Linked DNA regions of Homo sapiens: region 1 is linked to region 2. Evidence: fine-mapped expression QTL. Tissue or cell type: aorta. Region 2 holds a variant in brackets; the other region holds the start of a gene. All regions are shown on one strand. Distances are between the middles of the regions. Region 1 holds the start of CALCRL (calcitonin receptor like receptor). Region 2 overlaps CALCRL (calcitonin receptor like receptor).

What was found.
Region 1: CALCRL starts here. The variant in region 2 is fine-mapped to the expression of CALCRL in aorta (GTEx, PIP above 0.99).

The regions. Positions count from the first base shown.
Region 1 is chr2:187,446,832-187,449,768 of GRCh38, reverse strand. It overlaps CALCRL (calcitonin receptor like receptor), which reads left to right and starts at 1,517. Exons shown (of 15, transcript NM_005795.6): 1 at 1,517-1,730. All of the region lies in intron 2 of CALCRL-AS1 (CALCRL and TFPI antisense RNA 1), which reads right to left.
Region 2 is chr2:187,376,400-187,379,336 of GRCh38, reverse strand. It overlaps CALCRL (calcitonin receptor like receptor), which reads left to right. Exons shown (of 15, transcript NM_005795.6): 8 at 306-397. The region is part of intron 2 of CALCRL-AS1 (CALCRL and TFPI antisense RNA 1); the gene reads right to left. Among named protein-coding and RNA genes, the nearest start is that of CALCRL, 70 kb to the left of the region's middle. The variant T/C (reference allele first, on the strand shown) is at 1,695.

The sequences.
Region 1 (2,937 bases), 70 kb before region 2:
CACCAGTGTAACTCAGTTTCTTACAAGTCTTTTCTATTAACCATAATTATAGAGATGAAAGTATATCTATTTTTTATATGTCTGTATTTTGTAATCAATATTGATCTCACTGGTCTTAAAATCAAAGATTGTATAAACATTTTCTTCCACTAATTCAGACAATAAAAATGTCAACATGAGCACCCTGCTTTAAAAACATGATATTCCTGAATTTATTTTGCCTTTACCTCCTTTGTCTGCCTACAAGGTGTATGGCACCTCATTTTATCCTGGAATTGCACTAACAATTTACTAAGAGTTGAATGATCCTCACCGTATCTTATCTATTTCAAAATGTTATGAAATTTGTCGATTCAAAGCCTTAGACATAAAATCTATCTCTTCTAGTTTATAGATGAGAAAATTTATGCCCTGATAAATTAAGTGACTTTTAGTGCTGTTTAGGTTATAGGGATTATAATTATTGCTTCATATCGAACATTTACCAAATTATAAAAATGATAAAAGCATTTTAAATTTACATTTTCCCCTGATCATATCCAATGATGTATTAAACATATTCAGGAAAAACTATGCTTTGAGATGAAATTTTGTCTAAGAAATAAAGTATCCTTTGTATTTATATTATTTTATAATATTATGTTTACAACATCTATATTTTCTTTAAGATTATATTGACTTACAAATATTGTGGTATAAATTATTTTATATTATAAATAACATAATTATACCAAATATTTTTAAATGTGTGCAATAATTTTAAAATTATGAATTATTCAAAAGGCTATTTTGTCAAATATATATACTTATATATTATAAAAGAAACACTCTATACACACACATACACAACCTGAATTTATAACACATACACTCATGTTCTTATGAAGAAGGTAAAGGAAAAAATAAAAGATTTAAAAACTGCAGGATAAAGTTTCTTGATCTAATTAACTGATTAGGAACTGCACTTAGGAACTGATGGAGGAACAGCACCCAATTAGCAGAGCTCCAAATTAAGAAGAGCCAAATCACAAAACCAGTTATGATGAATACAGTTAATTTTTTTTTCTGTGTTGTGCTATGAACACAGATTTGTTAGATTTTTTTTCCTGGATACTTTGTAAGCTATAATTCAACACACACACACACACACACACACACACACACACACACACGCCTAACTCCTTTGATTCTTTGAGCAGAATACTATATTCAGATTTCCTTCAAATCACAAGTAGCTTGTTTGGCAAGTTCTAACAGAACTCAGTCAAGGTGAAAGCCAGCCAGCTTTTTACTGGTAACAATGTATTCACACAGCCTATGATCTCTCTCTGTTCAGGCTGCTTCTTGCTCTTGTCTCACAATAAGAAAGGAGTGCTGCTTTCCTGGGGTATGCTATTTGAGAAAGAAAGTAACCTAACACTAACTGCAGGCGGGGTCAGAGTGATGTAACAGGAAGCTCTGATGTTTCCCTTCTGCTGCTGATCACTTACAATCTGACAACACTTACAATCTACTCAGAACAACCTCTCTCTCTCCAGCAGAGAGTGTCACCTCCTGCTTTAGGACCATCAAGCTCTGCTAACTGAATCTCATCCTAATTGCAGGATCACATTGCAAAGCTTTCACTCTTTCCCACCTTGCTTGTGGGTAAATCTCTTCTGCGGAATCTCAGAAAGTAAAGTTCCATCCTGAGAATATTTCACAAAGAATTTCCTTAAGAGCTGGACTGGGTAAGTGCACATTCAAAATAAATATATTTATTCTAAGTAGTATTCTCATATAGTTTGGCAATGTTTCTATTATAGAATTTAGTAGATAGCACTGAAATAATGTTGAAACATAGTCTCACTTATTTCACATGCTAGAGAAAATACAGCCTACTACCCCAACATGAATACAAAATCTAATACTACTAGATAATATTGTTTACCATGGTATTCTAGAAAATAAATTTAGCAAGTATTAAAAATCTAAATGGATTAAAAGACATATTTCTGAACAAATACCTTAATCACAGAACAATGTCTTTTAAAATTAGCTCTAATATTAGCTAAGCTTGAATCTTGACAACTGGAAAACATTTCTCCCCCCGGAAGGGTCTTTAAACTTTCCATGTTATCAGCTGTAAGAAAGAGGTGAAAGAATAACTACTTAATGGGTCTCGGAGTCTCACTTACTCTGTGGTTGATCATAATGCAGAGTTTTGAAAAGTAATCACTTTGTATTTATTACATTTGCTTTTATTTGCCTTTCACCTTTATTTACACATATATCTGTAACTACTGAACTAATTTTTGTGTTCATTGTTGCCAGATGTGTTTAAATCTCTCTTCTGCTAACCCTGAACTGTTTGCTCTTTATTTGGATCATGGTGTCGGCTACAAAGAAAAAAAAAAACCTAGAGTTTAGGAAATGTAGATTTTTAAAACAATTCTTAATTTTGAAATCTTTAAGAGAATACTTCAACTTGACTGGTTCCCCTCTGCAAGCTTTTGGAGGGGGGTGTGATACCACGATATCTGTGGATAAAGAAACGTGACAGCTTTCCCAAAGAAGTATATTAGACGATTAAACAAAGAAATTAAAGTATTTATTAAAAAAGAATTTCCAGGATGGAACTTACTGAAATGTTGGATAAAACATCTGTTAATGCTCATTCCGATAGTACAGACTGTCCTGAACAATTTAAGAAACTAATGTCTGCTTAATAAATTGTTTGTGTAGATATATCACAAATTTGTTGCTGGAGAAAGTTTGATGTCAAATTTTAAATGATGTTGATAGATATGATTTTTAAGTTATATATTTTCTTACCTAAATGCAATTATACTTTCCAAGATGTCCTGCATTGGAAGCATCCTGTACTTAATCACTTATATCTGGCACATTAATAATAGACTACAAACATCCTGAGTAACTCCTCAGTAATTTACAACT
Region 2 (2,937 bases):
TAATCTAGATCAATAAAAGTTTTGCCTCATAGATTTAATATTTGACTTCTAATTTTTTAAAAAATTATTAAAAAAATAAAAAGGCATACAACTTATAAATTTTGATAATTTCACTGGATAGATATTTTTCATTCCAGACACGTTCAAGTATTTATTGGTTTGTAAACTCATCATTGTAAGGCTATCAGATCACATATTTCTAAAAATATAGTTTATTCAACTGAATTTGAACTTCTGCATGTGTGGGATTACAGATACTTATAGTATTGATATGAACCAAATTTTTTTGTTTATACAAATTACAGACTGCACTAAATTTGTTTTACCTGACCATAATTGGACACGGATTGTCTATTGCATCACTGCTTATCTCGCTTGGCATATTCTTTTATTTCAAGTAAGTAAATTTAAAATATTTTAAGAAAATTACTAGATGTCTTGGGTGAATGCCCCATCATGTGCATATTTACATCATGTCTGACAAAATATACCAATATAGATGATTTATAATGTTTAAAATAAGTTGAAATAAGTTGATCTTAGCTTTGTAAAATATGTAGAGGAGACTGATGAAATATCTTAACCTGAATTTTACAAAATTAGTAGGCATATAAAAGTGAAGACATATAATAAGAAGGGAGTCCAAACTAATATATAAACCTAACTGTATTTGCTTTGGGAACTGTTAAATAGTATAGGCCTTCTTAATTGTGTGTTTAGCTTTTGGACAATTTTAATAACAGAATAAGTGTCCATTTTAGAAACCGGAATTTTGTGCAAATAATAGCAAAGGCATTTAACATATATCATCAAAAATATAATCTAAATACACTTTGTTTAGGGTTTTTCCTCGTTTGGCGGGTCATCATTAAAAAGGTTTAATTGTACTTTCAATTTTACTTGTAATTCACTCCATTTTGAGGAGGAAGAGTCAGCTCCAATTTTTTGAACAAAGCAATCAACAACCAATTTTAAATTTATAGAAAGTTAAATTCTAAGTCATGCATGCATTATTTTATCCCTTCACATGATTTTCATAACTTTGATCATCAGCATATATATAATCATAGAATTCAGCGTGACAAGAGTAAGTAGCTATGTTTCATTGTATCTTCATCGCATTGTAGTCATCTTCTGCTCCTTTTGCTCCTGTGGCTGCCACCGCCACTGCTGCTCCTTCTCTTTCTTCTTTCTTCTTCTCCTTCTCCTTCTTCTTGTTCTTCTTTTTCCTCCTCCTCCTCCTTCTCTTTCTTGTTTCTTCTTCTCCTTCTCCTTCTTCTTGTTCTTCTTTTTCCTCCTCCTCCTCCTCTTCTCTTATTCCTCTTCCTACCCCTCCTTCTTCCTCCAACTTCCTTCTTCTACTAATTTTAAACAAAGAAGATATATATACCTATAATTTTAATACCCTATTAAGCAATTTCTAACATTTTTCTAGTTTTATTTCATATTGTTTCTACAGTTTTAATTATAGTATTTAAAATATTTTAACTATTTTTATAACAGCATTTTATCATTAGCACTTTATATGTTACTGAACAGTTTTTAAACAATCATTTGAGCAGCTAAATAATTTTTCATTTAGTAGGTGTACAAAAGTTGTTATTATCAATTCTCTATTTTCGACCATTAACATTGCTTTCATTTTTTCAATTAAAAAACACTGCAATGGACATTTTTGACTATAACTTTTCCCA[T/C]AGTTTGTACTATTTTCTCAGGCTACATTCCCAGAGTCTTGGGATTTCTTGGTCAAAGGGTCTATATCTTTTTATGGCTCTTGAAACACATCATCTCAAAAATATTTCAAAATGAACATGTTCAAAACAAATTCATATTATCTACCTCCTCCTAACCCAAGCTGGTTTTCTTCCAGAGTGACCCATCTTTACAAATGACACTACCAGAAATCCAATCACATTGGCCAGAAATTTAAGAGTAATCTGTGATACATTTCTCTCATTTTTCTTCTCTGTCACTCTTTCCTTATAACCTGTGAACTTAACCTTTTGAAACCCTTCTAATCTATTCCATTTCCTGATCACTACTGCCATCACCAGCAGTCTTGTTCTATCTAGCCTCAGTAAATTCACTTTCTCTCTTCATTTAATTCTAACCAAGGCAGCCAGAATAGTAGTTTCAAATATTTAGATCAAATATTGACCTGATTTTGCCATTCTTTGCTTTAAAATTTTTAGATTTTCCATTGTAATTAATATAAAATCAAAATCATTAACTTGCCCTGCCTGTTCTCTTTGCCTCCTCCCTAGTCTAATTAAATGTATTTATCTTTTAGATTTAAATTTTAGCATCACTTCCTCAGTGAAATCTTCCCGAATTACTTACTGTAATATTTCCAGAATTGCAATTAACGATAGTAGACATAGGGTAAAATTTTAATTAACATTTGGAAGACCACTATCTCTGCAAATTAAAAACTAATACAGCTGAAAGTCTTCAGATTAAATGGTCTCTTTTTATTTTGCATGTCATAAGTTGAAATATCCGAGCACATTAAATTTTTGAAGAAGATAAAGTTGCAAAGTATAATAATTACATTTGCCTGTCAAAACCAGTGGCTACAGGGAAGGACAATGGTTTCTAGAATTCTAAGTCATACAGTCCCAAACAAGTTAGAATTTAGTAAAGATAAGTAAAGTCCTGCACCAATTTCCTAAAGTCAAATGCAAAATTATTTATGTTCCTTCATGTGAAAGAGTCTAAGATTTAATGGAAAATGCTTGCTGTGAACTAATTAGATAAGAGTAGGGCTGCCAAGTGAAAACAATGCTGCAAGCCAAATGATACCAACAAATGTAGAGTATTCAATTTTAAATCTCAAATCAGACCACTTATTCTCCTAGTTCACTATATGAGAGCAAAAGCAAGATATCATAAAAATTAGCTTATCAAGTGAAGAAATTGAAGAAAATATCAACTGAT